4 linked regions of the Homo sapiens genome follow. The protein of the gene in region 2 binds, or shares a complex with, the protein of the main gene of each other region. Each region holds a gene or a part of one and is shown on either strand. Other genes may lie near its edges. A codon is read from its position in the direction of its gene.

Region 1 (7,027 bases), on a different chromosome or scaffold from region 2:
CTCCGCCTCCCAGGTTCAAGCAATTCCCTTGCCTCAGCCTCTTGAGTAGCTGGGACTACAGGCACGTGCCACCACACCTGGCTAATTTTTTATATTTTAGTAGAGACGGGGTTTCACCATATTGGCCAGGATGGTCTCAATCTCTTGACCTCATGATCCACCCGCCTCGGCCTCCCAAAGTGCTGGGATTACAGTCGTGAGCCACCGCACCCACAGCCCTGTTGAACTTTAAATTACATGCTGTACAGAAAATTATCAGTTACTTCTTTATCAACTCATGTATTTCCTGTAAATGTATATTCCAATGTGTTTTTCCCTCATTCTAAAACATGGGAGCTTGTGGATCACTGGTTTTTCACATGATTAAGTCAGTTTTTTGCTCACATAGTGACAGCAATTTTAAAGAAGATGTCAACTAAAGGGTATGAAAAGTTGATCTATGGTACTTACCGGTAATTCCTTGGCTAGCTTTATTACCATATTTTCAAGATATTCTGGTAAACTTTTAAACTGCTGGTTGGTTGGCTGGAAGAAGTGAGGGCTTCTCCGTGCTAATAGTCTCAGGGCTCTCCAACCATAATTTGAATTGTTCACAGCCCTATAAAAAGAGGTGTCAGGCTTGTAATTTATAGCTTTGTATTTCTGTATTCCCTTCTGCTCAGTTCTGCCATGTGTAATTCTGTATTTAAGGTAAATAGCTCAAAGTGCCATTCTTTGTATTTGAATCTTATTCCTAAAGAACTTTTCAGTATGTAGTCCACTGATAATAACAAACCAATAGATGCACATGTAACTAATCACAGGAACCAACAATGCCTGAAGAGGCAGGCTCATATGCAGCAAACACATTTTCAAAGTTTCCGTTCATTTTGTTTAATTTTAACAAGTCAACAAGTGTGTGCAGTACTGGCTGGATGCAGTACGTATACAACAGGAATCATCCATCTAGCTATTTGGAATCCATGAACTGTTCCCTAATGAAGTATAACAATGATCAGGGTGGTATACCATCAGGTGAGAAACAAACTGCAGAGAAATTCTAAAGATAATGCGTCAGAAATATGCAATGCTGCGGAAGAAACCAAACCACAAATTTATTCCATTTAAGAGTTTTGGATTGGAAGTCTCTTCCTCCCCTAAGAATAGCAATTTGGTTTATTTGGTCACCTCTTATAAATAAGCATATGTTACCTTTAGGATGTGCAGGTACCACTGAAGACTTAACAAAAACTACCCATAGACACTGGGGACTCTTCCCAAGTTAACACCTGCTGTGAGGCTTTGCCTAAACAGTTAAGAGCCTTCCTCTCTGACATATCTGTTTAGACAATTTGATTATTTTAGGCATTTTCAAAATTCACTGTCAATTATACACATCATTTTTCTTATTCTCCACAAAACCCTCTTTGGAGATAATAATTTGAACTATCACTTTAGGAATGAGTCCACCTAGTCTTATGTAACAGTGATAAATTAATATTCTTTCAATCGACAAACACTTTTGAGCCAGGCACTCAGTAGCTGTGGAGAGTACCTGAGGCACAGTAAGGCAGGCATTGCTAGTGATAAACACACAAGGTATAAGACAATTTCATAAGGATGAGGAAAACTTGAGAAATGAGAAAGTGGTAAGTGCCACCTTCTCATTTGGATAGTGGTAAGTGCCGTGAAATAAAAACCACGAGAATGCAAAAGAGGAGACCAGGGAGGGGAAGAGCTTCCCAGCCAGGGGGACTTTAAGCCACGGCAACCTTGGGGAAAAAGTGGTTCAAGCAAGTGAGACAGTAAAGTGTGAAGGTCCTGACAGGAAAGGGAAAGACAGGACCAAGAGGCCTGCTGTGGTTAAAGCAGAGGGGAGGCATGGCCACACAGGAGAGTATGAGCCAGACCAAGGAGGTCTTTTAGGCCCTGGGAAGGAGTTTGGAATAGGCACTCACTGGGAGATTTTAAGCAGATTAGACTTGGACAATTATTTTAAAGATCACTGGCTGATGCATGGAGCACTGACCACAACTAGAGAGATTAGTTAAGAGGTCACAGTAATTAACAACTCTGGTCACAGGGTCACACTAGTCACAAATACTGAGTGCTAACCACATGCCCTGTAGGGTTCAAAGTGCACTGTCTTATTTAATCCTCAGAATAACCCTGTGAAATGGGTACTGTTACTATTTAACAGATGAGGAAAGGGAACTGGCGGTTTAATAATTAAATTAGCCTTAGTTGCCTAGTAAGTAAGTGGTAGAGGGAATCGAACCTATGCATTCTGACCAGAGGCCTCTTGCCTTTAAACCACTACTCTTCAATTCCTATTTAAAGCCATGAGACTGCGGTGTCACCCAGAAGGTTCTAGATAAAGAGGCTAAGACCAATTCCTGATGTTACTCCAAAATTTGAGTTAGGCAGAGGATGAGGAGGCTGAAATGGAATGTGAGGTGGAGTGGGCAACGAGGGCAAAGGGCAAACAGAAGAACCATGGATTTGGATTCTCATGGACGCCAAGAGAAGAAAACATTAAGGGGAACAGGATAGGTTAACAGCTGCTGTGAGATACTGTGCTTTGAAGGGTAGAGAGAACAGAACTAATAGTTGGAGAGAAATGGGGATCAGGGGGAGTTTTTTTTTTCTTATATTTTGAAACAAGGGTGATTCCAAGTCATGCTTAGTTAACAGGAATAATCCTTGAAATCAGGATGTGTACTAACAAGAACTTGGAACATAAACTCACCTAAGAGAAAAAGCACTATTCTATCTACTGCCTCTCTTAAGAGGCTTTCTAGTATACACACAATTCCTAAGGAAGAAACAAATTGAAGAAAATTAAAAGGAGCTAATGAGGAGCATACTTACTTATATTCATTTTCCACCATATTTTCAGGGTCTGCCTGTTCAATGGCTTCTTCAAAGAATTCCTCCAAAGTGGGCATGTGTTCCCTGAGCGGTACAAAAATAACCAGTGAGGATGGCATATATTCTTAATAATAAATACTCATGAAGTGGTGGCAGGACAAGATTGTGGGCATGTGTTCCCTGAGCAGTACAAAAATAACCAGTGAGGATGGCATATACTCTTAATAATAAATACTCATAAAGTGGTGGCAGGACAAGATTGTGGGCATGTGTTCCCTGAGCGGTACAAAATAACCAGTGAGGATGGCATATACTCTTAATAATAAATACTCATAAAGTGGTGGCAGGACAAGATTGTGGGCATGTGTTCCCTGAGCGGTACAAAATAACCAGTGAGGATGGCATATACTCTTAATAATAAATACTCATAAAGTGGTGGCAGGACAAGATTGTGGGCATGTGTTCCCTGAGCGGTACAAAATAACCAGTGAGGATGGCATATACTCTTAATAATAAATACTCATAAAGTGGTGGCAGGACAAGATTGTGGGCATGTGTTCCCTGAGCGGTACAAAATAACCAGTGAGGATGGCATATACTCTTAATAATAAATACTCATAAAGTGGTGGCAGGACAAGATTCTAATGGCCCCATACTTTTAGTTACAGTTTTGATTACGTGGGAACTCCAGACTTTTAAGGAAGTAAAACCGTCAAAACTAAATTCAAAAAGGACAATAAATAAAGGGGATAGTCTAATACTAAATATTACATAGTATTTACTACATATAATATTATATACTTTAATTACACACTATAATATATAAATATGTTGCTATTCAAAGAGGGCAGCCAGGGTATTTTATAGCATTTGAATTTTACCAGCAAATAAACTTTTACATTAAGTCCCTATCCACGAATTATTTTTTCTTTAAACCAGAATTAAACCAAAACTAATAATCAGACCATAATACGATTTCAAGGGTTTAACCTTTAGCTCTTATTTAAATTGTTACCATGGTAGCATGGTTGATTTTTAAAATGCATCTTTCTTGAATTTGTTTTTAGAAATAAAATTTTGATACAGGGTCAAGCAAAGAAATGAGGTCTCAGGATCAGAAGACATCTTCTAGAGTAAAACTAGGAAAATGGGCTCTTTTAAGAAAACTATCCCAATATCCATTCATTTTCTAATGCTACAGATACTATATTCCATTTTATGAACATGCCCCAAGTTATCCATGTCCTACACAGAGATATTTGTCTTCCCACTCTTTGCTCTGACAATGTTAAATGAACATTCTTGCACCTGTCTCCTTGTAGATGAACTGATTTCTTTAGGCACTGGGCCTTCAAACTTCCACTGCAACCCACAATAAGAAATTCATTTTACACTGCAACCCAGTACACACATATATGCAAGTATATGTACAGATATATATAAGTAAAGCTAATGCTTCACAAAAGTATATTTCCTATTTCATTTAAAAAATGCTAGTTGAAATTACTAAATTGACTTTACAAACCACCAATGATTCTCAAACTTAGTTTTTAAAAACACTATTCTGATCAACACACCTACTAGTGGGGCACAGACATCTTTAACATTCAGATAGAGTGACTGTGCCATCAGACTCCTACCAGCAGCACTGGCAAATTATTTTTATCCATAATTCTTATAAAATCTGGGTATTTTTAAATTACTGAATCTCTTAGCTGGAAACTGCTTGCTGTAGTTTTTAACTGTACTTCCAGTTACTAGTGAAGTTCCCCGTCTTCTCAGAGGTTTATTAAGGTTTCTACTTCTGAATCTGACTATTCATTTGTACATTTTTCTACTGGGTTGATTCACTCTCACAGATTTGGCAGGAATCAATCATGTTAGAATTTTATCTATTTTTCCTGGTTTTTGTTTTTATTGATCTTCTCTTTTGATTTTGTTATCTTCTCTATTGTTTGTTGTCTATTTTACTGATTTCTAATCTTATTTTACTTTCTACTTCTATGAGTTTACTTTTCTTCTGAATGACTCTCAGTGTCAGACTCTTATTAGCTTGGTTTTTAGATTTCATTCTTTTTGAAAGTGTAAACACTTAAGGCTATACATTTCTCTTCTGTGTTCTACTGAGTTAGATCTCAAAAGTCTGAACATGTAGTGTTTTCATTATTATTTAGCTCTACATTTTCCAATTTCCATTATGACTTCTTTGATTCAAGGGTTATTTAGAAGTGTGTTTAAAGGAGTTGTAAGTATTTTTGCTTTTGCTATTCACACATAATTTACAAAAACTTGTGGTTTCTGTAAGACCAAGCCTGTTAATTATTTTGTTAAATTCTAAATGTATTACACTAAGTTTTTTCCACCAAATTTATTAAATTCTGAGAAAGGTCTGTCAAAATCCTACTAGATGGTAGGTTTTCTGGGTGGTGGTGGATGGTGAAAACTGACCCTGGGTCAACTTCTCATTCTAATTTTGTCAAATTTTTGAGAACACATTCTTAGAAAATAAAGTTTAAAATGTGTATATTTCTATTTTTTCCTTTTATCTTTATGCAATGATTGCCTTTATTTTTAATAATGCTTTCTGCTTTTAAGCCTTTTCTGCCTGATATCAATATAACTATGCCTTTTAAAAATTACGTCTTTTAAAAGTTCTTTCAGTTTCAACCTTTCCATATCTTTATTTTTAAGGTATATTTCTTATAAACATATAGATGGATCTTTTTTTTTTTTTTTTTTTTGAGACGGAGTCTCGCTCTGTCGCCCAGGCTGGAGTGCAGTGGTGCGATCTCGACTCACTGCAAGCTCCGCCTCCCAGGTTCACGCCATTCTCCTGCCTCAGCCTCCCAAGTAGCTGAGACTACAGGCGCCTGCCACCACACTTGGCTAATTTTTTGTATTTTTAGTAGAGACGGGGTTTCACCGTGTTAGCCACGATGGTCTCTATCTCCTGACCTCATGATCCGCCCGCCTTGGCCTCCCAAAGTGCTGGGATTACAGGTATGAGCCACCGCGCCTGGCCGATAGATCTTTAAAATATAACACCAATTTCTGTCTTTGAGCCAGAAAGTCCATTTCCATTTATATTTGAATTTAACCATACTGTTTTGTACTTTCTGTTGTGTTTTCTGTGCTTTTTTCCTCCTCTCCTACCTTCTAATTTACTTGCTTAAATTTTCTGTATTTACTTTTACCCCTCAATTTATTTAAAAATTACATATTCCATTTCTTTCACATACTTTACAAGCATGTTTGACTTAAACCATAACATTCTTTAATTCTGACCACCCCTTCTTGTCTTACATGTCACTTTTATCAAGTTTACCTTTTAAAATAACCCTAAATAATAATTATTACTATTTTATAACAGTGAATTCTTGATAAGATTTATTCAGATTTCTTCATGTTTACCAAAGTGTCTACACAGTAATCCTTTCTGCAATTTACTCCTTTCTGGGTTCAGTTTCCTTAAGACAGCTTTTTTACTGGGGACTGTTGATAATTTCTCATAGTTTTAGTCAATCACTCAACCACAACTGTTTAACTTGTTACAGAATTTTTTAGTTGAAATGTTGAAAAAGCAAGTAATACTTCTAGAAATGAGAAAATATAGTCATTGAATTTACAAAACGAGCAGGTTTAACAGCAGTCTGGACATAGGGAAAGTAAGAATTACTGGATTAATGATTAAGAAATCACCCAGAAAGCAATACAGAAGGAGCAAGAGTTGGAAACGATGAGTTAATGATAGTTGAGGAGGTCCAGCAAACATCTAATGGCAGAAAGAAATAATAGAGAATGTGAAAGACATTTTCAAGCACTCATCCCACTGTCTTCTGATTTTTGTTGTTCTTGAAGTCAACTGTTAGTTTAACTTTGCTCCTTTGTAGGTTGTCTGTTTTTTCTCTCTGGTGACTTTATTATCATGTACAGAGATATGGATTTATTTGGTTTATCCTCCTTAAGTATTATACTTCTTGAACCTATGAATTCATGCCTATTCTTAATAATTAACTCAATTATTGCCTCTTTCCCATTCTCTATTATTTCTTTCTGCCATCAGATGTTTGCTGGACCTCCTCAACTATCATTAAGTCATCGTTTCTAACTCTGCTCCTTCTGTATTGCTTTCTGGGTGATTTCTTAATCATTAATTAACCCATTAATTCTTACTTTA
Region 2 (6,463 bases):
GCCTCGGCCTTCCAAAGTGCTGGGATTAAAGGTGTGAGCCACCATGCCTGGCCTACGCAAAACAATCTTAACAAACTATTTACTTCAAACACTCTTCACTTTATCAATACATCTTTTTCTATTGAAAATGATTCCTAAAGAACAAAACAGTAGAGAAAACAGATCAACAAAACATTTGAGAACCATATTCCTCTCATATTAAGGAGAGATATATAAAGTAATGTGCACTATTTTACTTTGCATCTTATAATTAACGTCCCATACCAGCGAATTTTAACAGCCTGGAACCTCTCTCCACAATAAGCATACACCACTAACATTTTGCATGTAATTTCACAGGTTCATGGTCCTCCTAAAGCCTCTTCATAGACTCCGTTTTCAGAAGTGTAACCATTTCCAGAAATTGGCTCATTTTCCCATGTACATCCTAGAAATGCCAACTTCTAACAATTTTCAACTTATTTTGTAAGCCAATCAATGTTACCAGTTAAAAACTACCTAGAATATTAATGAGCACAAACATATGCAGCTTAAAAGCATTTTATTAAGCATTTTTGGATGTTGCTTCCTACCACTTAAGAATAAAAAATGCATTTTAATAAAAACAAATCTATACTGAAGTCATTTTCCTTTGTGAGAGGAAATATGAATGAAATACATTCATACTTAAAAACAGAGTATTTTACTGCCAAAACTTTAAATATCTCAAGAGCATACCACATTTTAAACACATTATGGTCATGTAGCTATTTCAATATTCCTGGGAGTGGTGGGCAATTAGCCTGTCTATGGCTTAGGATCTGTTTCCATGCTTGCTTCCTGAGCTTCTTCTACCTCTGAGAGTTTTTCATCATCTGTAATTGAGAAGGAAACATAAAACCTTAGTCAAGTTTGCCTATATTTTATATTCGATGAACACATGAAAACATGTTTATCCTTTATTAGCCAATACAATTAAAGCTAAGATGGCTACTAGTTGAATCAAACTTTAAAATTTATGTGATAGACTTCACTTAAAAAAAAAAAAATCCAGGCAGGGTCTGGTGGCTCATGCCTATAATCCCAGCACTTTGGGAGGCCAAGGCAGGTGGATCACCTGAGGTCAGGAATTCAAGACCAGCCTGGCCTACATGGTAAAACCCCGTCTCTACTAAAAATACTAAAATTAGCTGGGTGTGGTGGCATGCACCTGTAATTCCAGCTACTAGGGAGGCTGAGGCAGGAGAATCACTTGAGCCTGCAAGGTGAGGATTGCAGTGAGCCAAGATTGTGCCACTGCACTCCAGCCTGGGTGACAGAGCAAGACTGTCTTAAAAAAAAAAAAAAGAAAAGAAAAAATGGGTCTTAGGCTATTCTTTAAAACAATCAGAAGATCAGGTAACACAAAAATTTCCACTTGCCTATAGTGAATATAAAGAGCAAGTCTCCAGTTCCCCAAAGCACCCACTACTCAGTGGGTATGCAAATGTTCGTATGTACTGATTTCTTATTATTGCCTGCCTGGGTCCTGAGTTGTTATATTATAGTAGTCAACTACAGTGAACCAAGAAAGATTCCAAATCTATCATCCTTGAATTTTTCTTAATTTAAACCACTATGTATATGTTTAAATCCTATATTACTACAAATTAAGACTTTTCTACATGTATTCAAGAAAGTTGAACATGAGTACCTTCTAACGTCATCCAGCTACACTGTTCAGAAATTGAAGGTATACTGTCTCTCCAAGATGTATATTTCAAAAGGTACATCCCTGGGTCATTTAAAAAATCTTCATAAGCATTTACTTTGAGACTATTTCTACTTACTTTCCAATGTTTGCTGAAGTTCATGGATGGTACTAAGAAGAACATGAAACTGTTTCCGTCTCAATTCCAGCTGTGTTAACAAGAAAAAAATTTATACAAATGACCTGTATATATAGATATATAGACAGACAGATAGACAGATCATGAAGGCTAAATATATATGCGAATACCTTATCTTCAACACTTTCTTTAATGTGTGAAAGATGCTCTAATTCTTTTCCCAGAGCCTCTAGTTCCCTGGAAATAATAAAACAGTGTTACATTTTGCTGAATGGGGGAGAAGAGTTTACAATTAATGCCTAACTTTTAAGTTACTAGATAGGATTTTTAAAATAAAAAAAGGGCTTATAAGGAGTTATAACACTCCATTATGGTGAAACTTTTAAAGCTGAGGATGATTTCTTCTTAACTTCTAAATATGGACTCACTTTCATTAAAATTACATTTTTGGATCCATTTTTAAAGTACAGAAAAATACAGATAACAGAATAACAAGACCCAAGAAATGATACATATTGTGAAGTTTAACTTCGAGGGTTTTTTATTTTGGTAAAAGAAATAAAACATTGCCAATTAACTCGAAATACCCTTTGAATCTTACGCCTAGTCCTCTATCCTGGGCCTTTTTATCTCCTCTACCTCCCACTCAGGCAACTACTATATCATTCTTATTCTTTTTTATGCATATACTTGTATCCCTGAATAATACACAGTATTGGTATATAATATTTGAAAGGGGGTTCTAACTTTTATAAATGGTTATTATTCTGTATGTGTTTCAGGAATTTAAATATAATTTAAAGTTTATTATGTGTCTTTTCACTGATTATGTTTTGAGAGCTGTGTTTTAAAAGGGCATAACTAGTTTATTCTTTTTAACTGAAATTCAATATTTTAATATATGAAGACCATATTCTATTTATCCATTGTGATATTGATGCATATTATATGCATTTATTTTAGACATATAGCTGGTAAGGTTAGAGGAAAATAAAATCTAACAGAGAAGTATGGGAAAATATAATATTGAATATCTGACCCCTCCTTTTGAAACATATTTATTTCTGCAAAAATGAAATGCCTACGGTAGTTTTCGAGCATTTATGTATAAAGGTTAGTTCCTTTCAAAGTAAAGCTCTACACTTACTTTAATGTCTCATGCCTGTCTGGATGGTGCTGAATCACTTTTGCCAAAGCATCATATTCTGTAAGACATAAAAATATTTATCAAACTAAGGATTTTTTGAATGTGAATTATCAAAACAAAATGTGTAATATCACAAACCTCTCCTAATCACTTTCCTAGTACATCAAGAAATGAAATCACTGAAAGATGAGTATTGCCAGTTTTAGTTAACTGAGTTATAATTATAACGATACATAACATCAAAAGTGTTCCAAACAGGGGTTTTAGCTCCCACTTTTTTTCCATTTATATGTCCTGGACAGAACGTAAGAGGTCAGCATAAGCATAAGCAAATTTAAGTTATTATTGATTATCAAATAGACTGATTCTGAGAAGGATCTTACTCACTAGTTGTCCAAAAAGTAAAATAAAATAAAATACAATCAGTGAATATATCCTACCATTAATCTGAGTTGTTAGTCAACAGCAAATTACACTTCTCACTCATTCCAAAAGTTAAGATTTCAGAAACTTGCAAATAACTTAAAATTCAGGTTCTATTTTCTGCTCCACTGAGACCTCCAAGATAAGTCATGTAACTCCTGTTAAGCTTTCTTATGAAGTGATGAGTGGCAGGATTTACTTAAAAGCCTCATTAACCAACGAAAACACTGCAAAATATTTTTAGATGACTTTAGAACTGATACTAAGTTGGTATATGTTACTGTAAATAAGGCACCAAAACTTCACCATACACATTTTAAACTGAAAAAAAAAACTTGTAAAAAGAGGAAATTAAGCTTCATCTTAATTAGTTCATTAAAAAGTGAAAATTCATTGTTTTAGAACTGAGCATATTAATTCAAAGTATGATTCTTTTGGATACAAATTTTTTGAATTACAAAATAATACATGCCCTATGTAAAACAAAACAAAACAACACAAAAACAGAGAAAAGAACCTAAGCCATAAAAACCCACAACTTCAAAATAACCATTAACATTTTCTATTTTCTTCTAGTTTTTCATATCAATGTAACAGTTGTGATTACACATTATATTTTTTATTTTTACTTTTCTTCAATTTACATTATAAGAAGAGCAGTGCCTCTAACATTAAAAATTATCTTGAAATAGTATTTAGGAACTACATAAGGGTATACTCTAACTTAAAAACAAGAGATTATAACAAAACTCAACTTTAACCTTCTTATTAGATATTCTAGGCAGTCTAGAAATGTTTGCTTGCTTTGTACTTAATGAAAACTCAGAGTTTAAATTCTTTTCCATTTCATTTTTTGGAAAGTAGCTCTATTAAACAAACAAACAAAAAACCCAAACCATAAATCTAGTATATTTATGTAAATTGCCTCTGCTGATTAACCATAACATTATTTAGGCAAAAGGGTCCAAGATGGTAAAAATTTAATACTTAAGAAATACTGGGATAAGAAAAAAAAAGAGAAAAACAGAAAAGAAATACTTGGATAATCAATGTAATCCAGCAAAAACATTCTTCTCAACACAGACTTCCTTCTCTATTTTAAAGAATAATATAGTTTTAAGGAATTAAAATTTGGATTTTTTTTAATCCAGGTTGATTCAGGCTGCAGATTTTACCTCACAACATTAAAAACTGCATGAAAACTGTAGTCAGTAATAATGTATTTGCACATTAAATCCCTCAAAACCCTTACCTTGGCGATTTTTTCGTATTCGTTTTGCTTGAAGAATTTGCTTTTTGCACTCAGCAATTTTTTCATGTGCTCCAGCTATGCTACATTCTATATGAGAAGGTTTTTTAAAAGATAGTTGTAACAAAATCAATAATCCATTTTTAATTTTAAAACGCATTTATAAATTAACCTCTATTGGTAACAAAATAGACACTAGTATTTTTAAAAAATAGCTGTAACCCAAAGTACTATATCATCTTAGAATACACATTTTTTATAGCTAACATTTACTGTATTCTTTCCATTAATACAGTAATTGTTATTATTCTTTTACCACCAAAGAAAATTGTTAGCAGGTATTGTTTCCTTTAGACCATAAAAAATAAAATTACAGATAGAAACATTAAGATTCTTTACCTATTTCCTTGTAAATTTTTTCATAATTTTCCATTTCTCTGAGATTCATATCATATACTAGTAAAGTTTTGCCCATTGAAAATTCACATTGAGACAGCGTGCTCAGCATACGTTGGTACTGGCTATATCTAATGAAAAAGAAAGAAAACCAAAATAAAGATATTTGTGGACTGACAAAAGTGAACTGTTATAATGCAGACAAATATTTGCTAATTAAATTATAGCAAGTTCTGAGAGAATCATTTGCTTATTTAAAATTTAGAATATCTGTCCCTTAAGTTTTCTTTTTATCAAATGTAGTATTCTTGAATTTAACTACTTTAGTTACAAATGCAAAGGTGGGATTGTTGTTCTTATCAATGCACATTTTATTCAAACAATTATTTGAATTTTGTTTAAAAGACTTTAGAAATACTTTAAGATGTTTTTTTAACTTCACAATTCTGTTCCCACAATTTTTTCACTCTATAAAATTATTTATATGGAAAGCAAATTCAAATGAGAAAAAGTTTGCTATGTTAAAAAATAAATAAATATAGTTAGGCGTGGTAGCTCATGCCTGTAATTCTGGAATTTTGGGAAGCCAAGGTGGGCAGATCACTTAATGCTAGAAGTTTGACACCAGCCTGGCCAACATGGTGAAACCCCATCTCTACTAAAATACAAAAATTAGTCAGTCATGGTGTTGCATGCCTATAATCCCAGCTACTCAGGAGGTTGAGGCACGAGTACTGCTTGAACCTGGGGGGCGGAGGTTGCAGTGAGCCAAGATTGTGCCATTGCACTCCAGCCTGAACAACAGAATGAGACTCTGTCTCACAAAAAAAAAGATTAGATATACGTGTGTGCGTGTGTATCAGGTTGGTACAAAAGTAATCGTGGTTTCTGCCATTTCTGCCATTAAAGTTAATGGCAGAAATCACGATTAATTTTGCACCAACTTAATATATACATACATAGCAGCAGCCTTTTATTAGCAAAGGAGAAAATTCCATTTAGATATTTTATCTTACTAAACACTTATGTCCTAAAAGTAACCAAACTAATGAGTCTGAATTTAATCTTCATTTCTCCTTACCAATCTGCCTTCTCCATGTTTTAATAAACATATGAGAGGCCTTTGAAGAGAAGAAAAGGCCAAGAAAATCTACTCTTGGTTAATTAAGAGTTGACTCCACTGTACATTTAAGGTGAGTGAAAATTTGATCTACTCACAGGACCTTAATATAGGGCCTAAAATCACATTAGGACACTGGTATGGAAACAACAGTGAAAATGAAATACCCCTCTTCCTGGGACCCAGAGTTGCACCATTTAATGAAACTCTTCACTAGCAGATTAATTCTCCGATCATCTCCAGCACCATCTCCATCAATGAGGAGACGCTTCCGTATAACTTCGTCTGCAGGAAAGAAGGGCAATGTTACCATCTGGCTC
Region 3 (7,027 bases), on a different chromosome or scaffold from region 2:
ATTTTTACTATTTGTAGAGACGGGCGTCTCCCTATGTTACCCAGGCTGGTCTTGAAGTCCTGGGCTCAAGCAATGCTCCTGCCTCAGCCTCCCAAAGTACTGGGATTATGGGCATGAGCCACTGCCCTGCACCCAGTCAGAAATGCTTCTCTTGAATAAGCAGTTATTAGAGGAATTAAACATTCAAGAACCCTAACATGCCCCCAAACATCGTTTCAAGACTTTTAACAACTTCCTAAAATCCTTCAAGGACTTTTGGAGACAAGATCTCACTCTGTTGCCCAAGCTGGAGCACAGTAGTGCAATCATAGTTCACTGCAGCCTCAATTTCCTGGGCTCAAGCTATCCTCTCACCTCAGCCACCAGAGTATCTGGGACTACAGGCATACACCACCACACCTGGCTAATTTTTTTCTTCTTTGGTAGTGATGAAGTTTCGCCATGTTGCCCCGACTGGTCTCAAACTCCTGGACTCAAGTGATCCACCTCCCTCAGCCTCCCCAAGTGCTGGGATTACACACATAAGCCACCGTGCCTGGCCAAGGATCTTAATTTTTGAAGTTTATTTTCCTTGAGGTTATTGAGGACATACCCGTGCCAGCCATAGAATAGAAAAGCAGCTCCCACCTTACTCATGCTCAGCCCCTAAGATATTTATACCCTCATTATTCTCTCCCACATCACACATGTGATTTCCTCAATAAAAGTGTACTTAATATCCAGGTTTCTGCTACAGCTGGAGTGCTCCAATGCTCATCCCCCTACTGGACGTCTAACTGACCTGGTTGAACTCAAGGACATCCAGAAGGTCAAAGAGCTTCCGGTTCTTCTCGTTGTCCTTCAGTTTCACGTAGTACTGCTGCAACCCATGCAGCGTCAACTTCGTCTCATCATCCACGAAGATCTCCATTGGCTGGGGGGGAGGAAGGGGGTGGGGAACGGGAGGAGGGCAGAGTGGGGGGGTTAAACCTGGGGGGGTGGAGGAAGTTGATCTCCAATACACCCCATGGGGGGATGGGGAGGAAAGAGAAGATTGAAAACCCCACCCCACTCCCAAAAATACCCACATTTTACTGTGGTCTCTCTCACATTACATCTAATTTCCTTCCTATCAGATGAGTTTTAAGACTGCCCAACTAAAAACTATCATGGGAAAGAAACTGCAAATGAAGTCAAGGAGCAGTGAAACCACCCAATGGCACAGATGCCATTACCTCAAATAGAGGTGGGAGAGGAAAGAAAATGGGAGATGATTCTCAAAGGGAGAGCAAGGACCAAACATCTGGGAAATGATGGGAGGCAGTGACTCAAGGTCAGAATAACTCCATCAGAGGTGCTTCTAAGAACATGGGGTGGGGGGAGGACAACTGCTCCATTTGATTCTCCTACTTCAACTAAGAGAATCTCGTGTGCATTAGCAAAGTGGATGTCTTTTAAGATCAGAATGCTGCAATGGACAGTCAAAATGCCACTTAAGGAGAAACAAAAATTACTCAAGATGAGTTACTTGCCGTCAGACCACAACAGGATAGTTTTAGATGAGACTGGTCTCTTGACTAAGAATTAAACCATCTACAGGTTTACAGGAAAGGTATCAGTAAGTGGTGTTAAAATACCAAATTCAGAGCAGCAGATACACTTTTAAGGGACAGGATCTCACCATGTTGCCCAGGCTGGAGTGCAGTGGCTATTCACTGGCACAATCATAGCACACTATAGCCTCAAATTCCTGGGCTCAAGTGATCCTCCTGCTTCAGTCTCCTGAATAGCTGGGACTACAGGCACACACCATTATACCTCACTGCATTCATCTTTAAAATTAAAAAACCCCCTGAAGGGGAGGAAAGTAACAAAGACAGAAATTACCACAACTCCAAAGCCCAACTTTCCTAACACTTTTTATACTATCCTGGGGGAAGATAGTTAATATGAAGACCCAGAGGACAAAATAGGAAAGGATGCGTGTGTCATGGGAAAAAAACCAGAAGCCCAATCCCAGAAGGCAGGTTTTGTTTTTTGTTTTGTTTTGATACAGGGTCTCTCTCTATCACCCAGGCTGGAGTACAGTGGCACAATTACAGCTTACTGCCACCTCCACGTCCCGGGCTCAAGCAAACCCTCCTGCCTCAGCTTCCCAAGTAGCTGGGACTACAGGCATGCGCCACCACGCCCGGTTTTTCTGGTAGAGACAAAGTCTCACTACACTGCCCCAGCTAGTCTCAAATTCCTGGGCTCAAGCAATCCTCCCACCTTGGCCTCCCAAAGTGCTGGGATTAGAGGTGAGCCACCAGGCCCAGCCAAGGCAGGCTTTCTAAAGAGAAGTTCCATGGCCTCCTTCAAATCTCATTCTAGCCCCAAATACAGCTAAAGAGTGATCATCCCACGGGAAGGAACACTGCAGGGAGGGGAAGAACACACTCCACTGCTTATGCAATTGGCCCCACCTAGCCCCAAACCCTAACAACCACCCGATTACATCCACTTTACCTTTCCTATGTCCCTCTCCTCTGAGTATTAAAAAAAACAAAAAAATTTTTTTAAGAAAAAAAATCTACCACCCCATTCAGGACACCCCTCCCCAACACATATTGGGGGAAACGGGGCACGGCACGCGTTGGGTTCAGGAAAAAAACCGGGAACGGAAAAAGAGGCTGGTTTGGTCCTCAGCTTCCTGGTCAGGTTTCCCCGCGGCCTCCGCTGCCGCCATCCACCGCTGGGTGCCGTCTGCATTCCCTCGCCGCGCCACGGTGCTTCTCTGTTGCCGGCTCACATCAACCGAGGTTCCAGATGGGTGCAAGGAGATGTGGGTGGGAAGGAGTAGGGTATCGGGGATTGAGGTGCCAAAGGCCCCCACCCCTGGAGGTGGGGAAGGGGAGGATTCATTTGTGCTGATGCTCTTCTTTTGGACATGCCCTGCCATCTGTCTGTCCCTCTCTTGCTCTCCTGCCACCGGGAAGTAGGAGTTTTGGTGAGCAGAAGGCTCCAGCTGTACGCTCGATGCCACCTTGAGGGTGCGTGGCTGTAGGGTGCATGTAAGAGACGATGGATGGGTGGGTGGTAGGGCAGAAAAATCCTGCCCTCCCCCAAAGGGAGAAGAGGTTCAAAAATGTTGTGATTTATGAAAAAGTCGAACACTACCCGCTCTCACATTAACCCGACCAAGTCTTCCGGAGTTTCCCTGGCACCCGCGCAGGCCCTAACACTAGCTGTCTCTGCTTCTGTATGTCTCTTCAAGGAGTCATTACTCCCAGTTGGGCACAAGCCGCCTTCTTGGCACTTGAATGACAAGGGAGTCTGAGGAAGAGGGCGAGGAAGGGGAGGAGGCAGCGGGCGGGGAGTGGAGGGAGAGAAGGTAGAAGGGTATTTACATCTTGCATGAACTTGCGGCAGACTGGACGGATCTCTTTGCTCAAGGTAGCACTGAACATCATGACCTGCTTCTCGTGGGGGGTCATGCGAAAAATTTCCTGGACATCCCGACGCATGTCTACAAGAACAAGGAAAAAAATTGTAGGAGAAAATAAGCAGGTATGATAAACAAAGATTAGAGGTAGACTTCCCAGTGAGGTGAAGATTGCTGGAAATAGTAACAACACAATGGAAAGAGCAATGGACTTGGAATCAAGAAGTGGGATCAGATTCCAGCTGTTTGTTTTAACCAAGCAAGAAATAAGGTAAAACCCCAAAGTTCCCAACTATGAAATGGGGATAAAGCCCAGTGCAGAGGCTCTCAAGGCCTTCAAAACATGCTTTATGGGACCTTCTCCCAACCCTTTCCTGCCCAAGCCCCAGCCAGCCTTCAGCAGACTACAAATATCAAGCACATATTATATTCCAGATATCAGAGTCCATCTATGACTCTCTGGATTACTTTTCTATCAAGTCAGGCAAATATGACATCCCTACCTGGAGCCCACCTTTATAGCTCACCATATAGAATTGCCAAAGATCATTTGTAATGACTTATGGGGCCTATGTCCAACCCCACTCTCATTCACCAAGATTCAATTCTTACAGAAAAATCTTCCATTAACCCCACCTGGCACACTAGAATACCACATCACACAAACTGCTACAAACACTCTCTACATTAATCCCAGACCTGAGTCTAGACACTTATTCAGCTATAAATTCTGACTGTAAATGCTGTGCTGGAGATGCCAGAAGGGTACTGTCTTCTCTTTCAGTTTAGAATCTCCGCTATGACTCCCAGTATATGAATCTATAATGAAAACGGTGGTGGTGGTGATGACTTATGCCTAAAATTATCAAAGTCCCCTATTCTCAAAGGTTAAAAACAAAAATCATAGAAAGATGATAGATGACACCCTTTACTGTGCTTAAAAGCATAATAAAGACCAACCAGGGAACCCAGAGCCATCAGTCATGGGTGATAGATAAGAGTCGTCCTTGCACTGAGGTGCTCCTGTTTCAAATAAACATCATTTGGCTCCAAAGAACAACTCCCCAGCATTAGCCAAGCCCCAGCACTGCCACTCACCGAGCTGTTCAAGCATCTTATCACATTCATCCAAAATAAAGTGTTTAATGTGTTTGAGGTTGAGGCTCTTATTTCGAGCCAGGGCTAGGATACGGCCTGGAGTCCCCACGACGATATGCGGGCAGTTCTTCTTCAGCACCTCTTCATCCTTCTTGATAGACAGACCACCAAAAAAAACAGCAACCTGCCGAGCCAGAAGCAAAGAGTCTCAAAACAGAGGAAGGAAAGAGTCCAATCCCCCCAGGGTTCCCACTCTGTTTGAGCTAAACCAATTTTTAGCATGTTTCCAAACTAAAACTAACTTTAGAGGGCACCTAATTTAAAAATTTTATGTCCCCCCCACCAAACACTGAGGGTGATTGCCTAAAGTTACATGGCTAGTCGGAGCAGTCAGGACAATAATTCAGTTCTACTGACTTAATCTAACCAACTTCCTTCATTTATGAGGCCAGGCTTCATTTAAAAAATAAAGGAGCCAGGTGTGGTGGCACACGCCTATAATTCCAGCTACTCAGGAGGCTGAGGCACGAGAACCTGGGAGGCAGAGGTTGTGGTGAGCCAAGATCCCACCGTTGTACTCCAGCCTGGGCAACAAGAGTGATACTCCATCTCAAAAAGAAATAAAATAAATAAAAATAAAATAAAGCCAGGCCCAGTGGCTCACGCCTGTAATCCCAGCAGTTTGGGAGGTCAAGGAAAGTGGATCACTTGAAGCCAGGAGTTCAAGACCAGCCTGGCCAACACGGTGAAACCCCATCTCTACTAAAATACAAAATTTACAAATTTACTACTAAAAAACAAAAAATACAAAATTTAGCCGGGAGGCTGAGGCAGGAGAATCGCTTGAACCCGGGAGGTGGAGATTGCAGTGAGGCGAGATTGAGCCACTGTACTCCAGCCTGGATGACAGAGCGAGACTCCATCTCAAAAAATAAAAAATAAATAAATAAAGGACAGCAAGAAATCACCAGATTAGTGTAAAGTACCACAAAAAACACATGGAACATTAAGGTTTCCTAAATAAACCCAGAATCTCAAACTCTTTTCACACAAACCCCATGAAATTACTGCTTCGGGCTAAATATTATCATTTCATGTTAAAACCATTAGGTGAATAGTTGTTTGGGGATCTGGGCCTTGGTACAGTATCAAATAACACCAGAAACTACTTTCTGGTTTCAAGGGGGAAAAGAACAACTGTGGAATCAGACTGTCACGACGCTAATCCTATGGTAAATCTAAAATCATTAATGAGGCCAGGTGCAGTGGCTCACTCCTGTAATCCCAGCACTTTGGGAGGCCGAGGTGGGTGGATCACTTGAGGTCAGGAGTTCGAGACCAGCCTGGCCAACATGGCGAAACCCTGTCACTACTAAAAAAAAACAAAAATTAGCCAGGCATGATGGCACACTGTAGTCCCAGCTACTCGGGGGGTTGAGGCGGGAGAATCGCTTGAACGTGGGAGGCGCAGGTTGCAGTGAGCTGAGATCGCGCCACTACACTCACAGCCTGAGGGACACAGCGAGACTCCATCTCAAAACAAATAAATAAAAATAAAATAAAATAACTAACATAAGTCGACCAGATTTGTGGCATAACAGGAGATACAGTATCACCTATGAAGGATTCTTGCCAAAAATGCTTAACTTCAATCAGATTTTTTCTTTTTTTTTGAGATGGGAGTCTCACTCTGCCACCCAGGCTGGAGTGTAATGGCACAATCCCAGCTCACTACAACCTCTGCTTCCTGGGTTCAAGCGATTCCCCTGCCTCAGCCTCCCAAGCAGGTGGGACTATAGGTGTGTGCCACCATGCACGGCTAATTTTTGCATTTTTAGTAGAGAGAGGGTTTCATCCTGTTGGCCACATTGGTCTTAAACTCCTGACCTCAAATAATCCACACGCCTTGGCCTCCCAAACTGCTGAGATTACAGGTGTAAGCCATTGTGCACTTGGCCAGAATCCTCAATATTCACACACCACTGGAGCTGTTTTAAAGTTTCCGGCTTTCTCTGCCACATACCCCAAAATTATTAAACTGATATGATTCAAAGTCAGTATAAAGTAGTAAGAAAAGGGTGGTCTTGTGTTAAGCATCATCCATAGCCCAATTACGAATCCTCCTGTTACATAGGAACTCAACACTCTGTTACACCACAGCAAACTAAAGCTTCTCCAAAATTAAAGAGACTATTGGCCTACAAGTTTCTTATCCCTCCAACTTGCCACACCCTCACTCTCAGGTCTCTTTACCTTGGCTTACCTTGACATTGGGCATGTATTTAGAGAAGCGCTCATATTCCTTGCTGATCTGAAAAGCCAACTCCCGAGTGTGACACATCACCAGTACAGACACCTTAGGCAGGAAGTAGACGGAGACATATGGTAAATGTAGCTCTTCATTATCCCCTCTAGGGAAGTGACTGTCACAAAAACACACCTGGGCCGATAATAAATGACTTCAATTATGTGATCTAAATCATGAACCCCACGCTTGCGACAGAACATCCCCCACAGCTGTCAGGT
Region 4 (7,027 bases), on a different chromosome or scaffold from region 2:
ATGGCTGTTTAAGGCCTTCCACCATGATTGTAAGCTTCCTGAGGCCTCCCCAGAAGCCAAGCAGATGCCAGCACCATGCTTCCCATAAAGCCTGCAGAAATGTAAGCCAATTAAGCCTCTTTTCTTCATAAGTTACCTAGTCTCATGTATTTCTCCTTTACAGCAATGCAAGAACAGCCTAATATACTTTTTTTTTTTTTTTTTTTGAGACAGTCTTGCTCTGTTGCCCAGGCTGGAGTACAGGGGTGCCATCTGGGCTCACTACAACCTCCACCTCAGCCTCTGGAGTAGCTGGGACTACAGGCACATGCCACCACACTCAGCTAATTTATTTTAAACTTTTAGTAGAGATGAGGTCTCACTATGTTGCCCAGGCTAGTCTCCAACTCCTGACCTCAAGTGATCCTCCCACACTGCTCTCCTAAAGTGCTGGGATTCTTTCATTTTGAGAAACTATCTGTAAACAAAGTGACAAGAACAGGAAGTCTCATTTGAGTCCACTGTCCTTTTCCAGAAATGAGTTAGGCACAACCAGTTCTTATTAAATATTTTAAAACTATCCCTTTTTATACAGAATCGTTTCACTCTTTAAATAAAACTTTGAGGTAGGTTTTATTATCTCCACTTCCTAGATGATGAAACCTGAGGCTCAGGAAGTACTGTAACTTATTAATACTAAGTGGCAAAGCCTTTTTCTTTTCTTTTTTTTTTTTTTGAGAGCAAGTCTCACTCTGTAGCCCATGTTGGAGTGGCGTGATCTTGGCTCACCGCAACCTCTGCCTCCCGGTTTCAAGAGATTCTCATGCCTCGGTCTCCAGAGTAGCTGGGATTACAGGCACATGCCACTGCACCTGGCTAATTTTTTTAAATAAGTAAATAAATAAATAAATAAATGTATTTTTAGTAGAGATGGGGTTTCACCATGTTGGCCAGGCTGATCTTGAACTCTCGACCTCAGGTAATCTGCCTGCCTCAGCCTCCCAAAGTGCTAGGATTATAGGCGTAAGCCACCATGCCCGGCCGCCTTTTTCTTTTTTGAGACAGGGTCTCACTCTATTGCCCAGGCTGGAGTACAGTGGCGCCATCCAGGTTCACTGCAGCCTTGACCTCCTGGGCTTAAGTGATCCTCCCATCTCAGCCTCCTGAGTAGCTGGGACTATAGGTGTGTGCCACCACGCCTAGCTAATTTTTGTATTTTTAGTAGAGACAGGGTTTCTCCATGTTGCCCAGGCTGGTCTCAAACTCCTGGGCTCAAGAGATCTGCCTGCCTCAGCCTCCCAAAGTGCTAAGATTACAGGCATGAGCCACCACACCCAGCCCAGAGCCAATTTTAGAATCCAAGCCTACCTGATTCCAAACGTTATACTCTTTGCCACTAGTCTAACAGACTCTAACACTGAATTAAGTATATTGATGGAATTCAGTGTTGCCACTTCACCCAGAAAAAAAGTTATCAAGAAAAAAGCAAAATATTTGGACACTTAAGAAGTAGGTGGGTGGCCAGACATAGTGGCTCATGCCTATAATAATCCCAGCAATTTGGGAGCTGAGTGCAGAGGATCGCTTGAGCCCAGGAGTTTGAGACCAGCCTGAGCAACAGAATGAGACCCCATCTCTACTTAAATAAATAAATAATTAAGAAGTAGGTGGGAAAACAGTGTTTCTCTACTCAGTTTATTCACTCTCACTTCCTGGGCAACAGAGACCCCAACTCGACTTAAATAAGTAAATAAATAAATAAATAAATAGGTGGGGAAACAATATTTCTCCATTCAGTTTATTCACTCTAATTTCCCTTCAAGGTCTATGAAGCGTTCCAGGTATATTTTTACCTCTGTATCCTCTGTGGTTCCAGTTCCAGCTGAACTTGTGACAATCCCAAATCGCTCCTTCCTCTTTTTCAGTTTCTCATCATCTTCAGACTGTTCAAGGACAAAGGAAAGAGTTGAAACAAACTAGCCTCCATTCACCAAGTAAATGGGAATGAAATGATAACTTATTGGTCACAAGGTGCTAACCAACCCTGTGCCAAGAACTAAGGATCACATAAAGAGATAAGATACATAAGAAACTGAATAAGCTAGCATATACTATGTTGTACCTAGAATGACTAAAAACTTAATTTTAGGCAGGGCCTCAATACTCATAAGACAAGTAGGGTAAAGAAACAGTAAGAGGCCGGGCACGGTGACTCACACCTGTAATCCTAGCACTTTGGGAGGCTGAGGCGGGTGGATCAGGCAGTCAGGAGTTCAACACCAGCCTGGCCAAGATGATGAAACCCCATTTCGACTAAAAATACAAAAAAATTAGCTGGGTGTGGTGGCGGGCGCCTGTAATCCCAGCTACTAGGGAGGCTGAGGCAGAGAACTGCTTGAACCTGGGAGGCAGAAGTTGCACTGAGCTGAGATTGCACCACTGCACTCCAGCCTGGGTGACAGAGTGAGACTCTGTCTCAAAAAAAAAAATAATAAATAAAATAAACAGTAAGAAACACCCATAAAACAAATTTCTATGCTCAAGCAATTCTGGCAGTTGAGGGATATGGAAAACTGAGGTTTCACTGAATAACACCCAAAGTTACACCTAGTAACACCTAGTTAGAAGGTACCCAAACTACTTGTTGAACAATGCTTACACGTTACCAAGGAAAGAAAGGGGAAGAGGGCCAGAGTGGTATTTCTGAAAAACTTATTTGCTTGAAACACCCAGCAAAGCCATAGAAGGCTCTGAATAGTTTGAAATGATTCTTAAAACAGGTGAATCAAGGTGACAGCCATGGTCAACTCTCTAAGAGAAATGCTGTGGACATTTTCCAAGCATCTGTGAAACTCATGATGTCTGCCTGGGAATGAGAGAATATTTCAGTTTACCATGAGTTGGAGCTCGCCATTATTCTAGGTGTTTTGTATCATTCATGTCCAACACTGCTCAGTATAAGAGTCTATATATTTTCCTATCAGAACCTAAACCCTACCATTTTATTTAGCCCACTTTAACAGTTATTTTCTCTTTCTCCACCTCCCCCTCACATCTTATCACCAGTCATCAGAAGCTCAGCCTCAGGATTAGAAAACATCTGAAATCAGGTAGGCTCCTCGGGTGTCTTTCCCCCAGGAAGGACTTTCTAAAATTTGGCACATATATAAAAAGATCTCATTCTCTCATAATCTCAAGAGACCCTCTACTCCCTAGAGATGTACCCATCCTCACTAAAGAGCAGGACAGTTTCTTTGACTTTATTTACGTTGTTAACCCAACAGAAGGACAGATAAGCAAGAGTTCAAACAAGGGCACAGTGGCTCACACCTGTAATTCCAGCACTTTGGGAGGCCAAGGCAAGCAGATCACTTGAGGTCAGGAGTTGGAGACCAGCCTGGCCAACATGGTGAAACCCATCTTTACTAAACATACAAAAATTGGCCAAGCATGGCCGCAGGTGCCTGTAATCCCAGCTACTTGGGAGGCTGAGGCAGGAAAATAGCTTGAACCCAGGAGGCGGAGGTTACAGTGAGCTGAGATCATGCCATTGCAGTCCAGCCTGGGTAGACAGAGTGGGACTCCGTCTCCAAAGAGTTCAAACAAACTTTTTTTTTTTTTTTTTTGAGACAGAGTCTTACTTCGTTACCCAGGCTGGAGTGCAGTGGCACAATCTCAGCTCACTGCAACCTGTGCCTCCCAAGTAGCTGGACTACAGGCATGTGCCACCATGCCCGGCCAATTTTGTATTTTTAGTAGAGACGGGGTTTCTCCATGTTGGTCAGGCTGGTCTCGAACTCCCAACCTCAGGTGATCCGCCCACCTTGGCCTCCCAAAGTGCTGGGATTACAGGTGTGAGCCACTGCGCCTGGCCTCAAACAAACTTTTAAAGAATGTCTGTGTGGTGCTTCTGAGCTGGATTTGTTTTTAAATCCCAAGGAAATTATAGTCCTACAGTCTATAGGCAGGCTGTGTCTCTGGGTGTCCCAAAACTACAAGGTCAAAAGCAAAGGTAACAAAAAGACCTACAGAAATATACAGCAATTTTTCAATGCCTCTACTCTCAACCCCAACCAAGGAGTTGTCTTTGTCCCTGTGGCCACAGCAGCCACCTGTACAAATCAAAAGCAGGGCAGCTATCCAGCTTTCTGTGCTCAATTTAACTAGTCCACCTGTCTGAACACAGCAGGCAGGAGTACTGTCTTGGTCTTTAACTCTTTCAGCTTGAGAAAGATGTTCATTTTCTCCCTTTTGCTGCACCTGCTTTCTAGTGAGTAGGAAGAGACCTAAGAAAGAATGATGGTTATGAAGCAATTAAGAATCCTATACAAGTTATCATTTAATCACAGTTTATTACTAGAATAAACTACTGCCTACACAGTTTTTCTGCCTTTCTCATTATGACCACCAGCAAATCCATAGCGGGTACCTCATTAATGTACTCTGAACTATTGTAAAAACATTAAGCCAGGTTCAAAGAAAAACATAAGTATTCTTGTCCTTAATAATAATAAATTAAAATAATAACATTATAGCCATGAACATCTGAGTGCTTAGTATATGCCAGGTACTGTGTGCAGTTCTTTACACATGCAATATCTCATTTACTACTTTTTTTTTTTTTTTTCCCCAGAGACAGAGTCTCGCTCTGTCGCCCAGGCTGGAGTGCAGTGGTGCCATCTTGGCTCAATGCAGTCTCCACCTTCCAGGTTCAAGGGATTCTCCCGCCTCAGCCTCCTGAGTAGCTGGGACTACATGCGCACGCCACCACACCTAATTTTTGTATTTTTAGTAGAGATGGGGTTTCGCCACGTTAGCCAAACTGGTCTCGAACTCCTGACCTCAGGTGATCCGCCCACTTCGCCTTCCAAAGTGTTGGGATTACAGGCGTGAGCCACTGCATCCAGGCTCATTTACTACTTTATTTTAATTTTTGCAGAGAGGGGGATCTCGCTATGTTTCCCAGGCTAGTCTTGAACTCCTGGGCTCAATCAATCCTCTTGCCTCAGCCTCCCAAAGTGCTGGGATTACAGGTGTGAGCCACTGTACCTGGCATCATTTACTTCTTATAATAATCCTATGGAGTAGGCACAGCAATTAAATTCATTTCATAGATAGGAAAATTTAGTCTTGGAGAGATTAAGTGACTCACCCAAAATTTCACAAATAATACGAGGATTGGAATCCAGGACATTTTACTCAGGAATCCACTTTCTTAGCCTTACCACCTCCTCAAGGTATCTCACTTAAGTATTTCTTTGGAAGAACAGTAGGACAATTAAGTGCTTAACTCCCAAGGAGGAAGGATCACTAGAACCCTTAGCTAAAAAAACTTGTAAATTTTAATCACATCACTCAAATAATCAGGTCAAGAATACTAGGACCCCTTCTTCTAACGTACCATATACCTACAATTTATAAGTAACAGTATCTAGGAAAAGGGCTCCAGTTAGTAATCTTGTACTAATGTTTTTCTCAGCTAAATCTGGTTCTAATTTTGCTTAATTGGCTATTCCATTTGTTGAGATGTAATAAAAGAATAAGGGGCTGGGAGCAGTGGCTCACATCTGTAATCCCACCACTTTGAGAAAATCCCAGGAAGGATCTTCTAAAATCCTGAGGTCGGGAGTTCGAGACCAGCCTGACCAACATGGAGAAACCCCGCCTCTACTAAAAATACAAAATTAGCTGGGCGTGGTGGCGCATGCCTGTAATCCCAGCTACTTGGGAGGCTGAGGCAGGAGAAGCGCTTGAACCCGGGAGGTGGAGGTTGCGGTGAGCCGAGATCTCGCCATTGCACTCCAGCCTGGGCAACAAGAGCGAAACTCCATTTCAAAAAAAAAAAAAAAAAGAATAAGGCTGGGCGCAGTGGCTCACACCGGTAATCCCAGCACTTTGGGAGGCCGAGGCAGGCAAATCACAAGGTCAAGATATAGAGACTATCCTGGCCAACATGGTGAAACCCCATCTCTATTAAAAAAAATACAAAAATTAGCTGGGTGTGGTGGCGAGTAGTAGTCCCTACTCGGGAAGCTGAGGCAGGAGAATCACTTGAACCCGAGAGGCGGAGGTTGCAGGGAGCCAAGATCACGCCACTGCACTCCAGCCTGGCAACAGAGCCAGACTCTGTCTCACAAAAAAAAAAAAAAAAAAAAAGGAAGGTTTCCAACAAACATTAAGTCCCACCACATTTTTTACTAACAAAGTCAAGGGGGAAAGTTTCCTTGATCTACTACCACTAAGATAAAGTGAATACGGAATATAAATGGGGATTTCAAGTTGAGAACCTCTAGAATGTTCTAGTTGATATATCTTCACTAAGTCTCCCGGCCAAGTAGGAAACAGTTTTCAGGAAAATAAATGGAGCCTCTCTTCTTGCGGAGAGGCAAGACTAGACCACTATCTTGTTAAACTACCATTATAAACTTTTTTCCATTCAATTTAGCACTAGCAGTACTTCAGCAAGTTCAAATCACAGAGGAGATAAGACTTTTGAAACCCAGACATTATATAAGCACAAACCCTGAGGCCAAGCCCTCCCCCAACGTATGTCCACTTGGAATGTGCGGGCCAGTTTTGCTTCTCCTGGTTCTTTATTTGGCTATATCCTCAAATGGGGAGTCTGATTTCCCCATTAGCCACCTGCCTCGCTGCCCACGTTTTTTAGAGACAGGGCCTCACTCTGTTGCCATGCTGTCGTGCAGTAGCATGATCATGGCTCACTGTAATGTTGAATCCCTGGGCTCAAGTAATCCTCCAACCTTAGCCTCCTCAGTAGCTAAGAACTAAAGGTATGTGCCATGCCTGGCTAATTTTTTTTTTTTTTTAATAGAGACAGGGTCTTGCTATGTTGCCTAGACTGGTTTCAAACTCCCGGACTCAAGCAATCCTTTCACCTCGCCTCCCAAAGTGCTGGGATTACAGGCATGAGCCACCACACCCAGCCTAGCTTCCCTTTTAAACAAGATCTTTGGTGCCTCTTCAGGAGATACAGGCAGAGCATCTGTTCTAAACCCATTAGGGGTTCCAGGGGAAAACAACAACAACA

Evidence for each region.
Region 1: the proteins of THOC7 (region 2) and THOC1 are in contact, whole or in part, in a cryo-EM structure (PDB 7APK), measured with the Homo sapiens proteins. Residues at the interface, in NP_079351.2 of Homo sapiens: Tyr47 (codon at 5,153), Gln51 (codon at 5,141), Leu54 (codon at 5,132), Ser55 (codon at 5,129), Ser58 (codon at 5,120), Gln59 (codon at 5,117), Phe62 (codon at 5,108), Gly65 (codon at 5,099), Lys66 (codon at 5,096), Leu69 (codon at 5,087), Val70 (codon at 5,084), Met73 (codon at 5,075), Arg76 (codon at 5,066), Glu77 (codon at 5,063), Asn80 (codon at 5,054), Ile84 (codon at 5,042), Ile88 (codon at 5,030); in NP_005122.2 of Homo sapiens: Leu10, Arg14, Glu46, Gln53, Arg56, Glu60, Ile63, Ile64, Asp99, Asp102, Cys103, Leu104, Pro105, Arg146, Gln151.
Region 3: THOC7 (region 2) and DDX39B share a complex: the UniProt entries of both Homo sapiens proteins name them as parts of the transcription/export (TREX) complex.
Region 4: THOC7 (region 2) and SARNP share a complex: the UniProt entries of both Homo sapiens proteins name them as parts of the transcription/export (TREX) complex.

Annotation. Positions count from the first base shown.
Region 1 is NC_000018.10:216,036-223,062, forward strand, and holds part of THOC1 (THO complex subunit 1), read right to left. Parts: intron 2,935-7,027; coding exon 2,851-2,934; intron 599-2,850; coding exon 451-598; intron 1-450. UniProt on the Homo sapiens protein: Component of the THO subcomplex of the TREX complex which is thought to couple mRNA transcription, processing and nuclear export, and which specifically associates with spliced mRNA and not with unspliced pre-mRNA.
Region 2 is NC_000003.12:63,833,346-63,839,808, forward strand, and holds the end of THOC7 (THO complex subunit 7), read right to left. Parts: intron 6,429-6,463; coding exon 6,311-6,428; intron 5,155-6,310; coding exon 5,027-5,154; intron 4,718-5,026; coding exon 4,631-4,717; intron 3,014-4,630; coding exon 2,956-3,013; intron 2,046-2,955; coding exon 1,979-2,045; intron 1,879-1,978; coding exon 1,809-1,878; intron 855-1,808; coding exon 787-854; 3' UTR 525-786; downstream 1-524. UniProt on the Homo sapiens protein: Component of the THO subcomplex of the TREX complex which is thought to couple mRNA transcription, processing and nuclear export, and which specifically associates with spliced mRNA and not with unspliced pre-mRNA.
Region 3 is NC_000006.12:31,531,999-31,539,025, forward strand, and holds part of DDX39B (spliceosome RNA helicase DDX39B), read right to left. Parts: intron 6,858-7,027; coding exon 6,765-6,857; intron 4,686-6,764; coding exon 4,502-4,685; intron 4,452-4,501; exon of another isoform or gene 4,376-4,451; intron 3,488-4,375; coding exon 3,369-3,487; intron 914-3,368; coding exon 782-913; intron 1-781. UniProt on the Homo sapiens protein: Involved in nuclear export of spliced and unspliced mRNA. Component of the TREX complex which is thought to couple mRNA transcription, processing and nuclear export, and specifically associates with spliced mRNA and not with unspliced pre-mRNA.
Region 4 is NC_000012.12:55,758,719-55,765,745, forward strand, and holds part of SARNP (SAP domain-containing ribonucleoprotein), read right to left. Parts: intron 1,923-7,027; coding exon 1,833-1,922; intron 1-1,832. UniProt on the Homo sapiens protein: Binds both single-stranded and double-stranded DNA with higher affinity for the single-stranded form. Specifically binds to scaffold/matrix attachment region DNA. Also binds single-stranded RNA. Enhances RNA unwinding activity of DDX39A.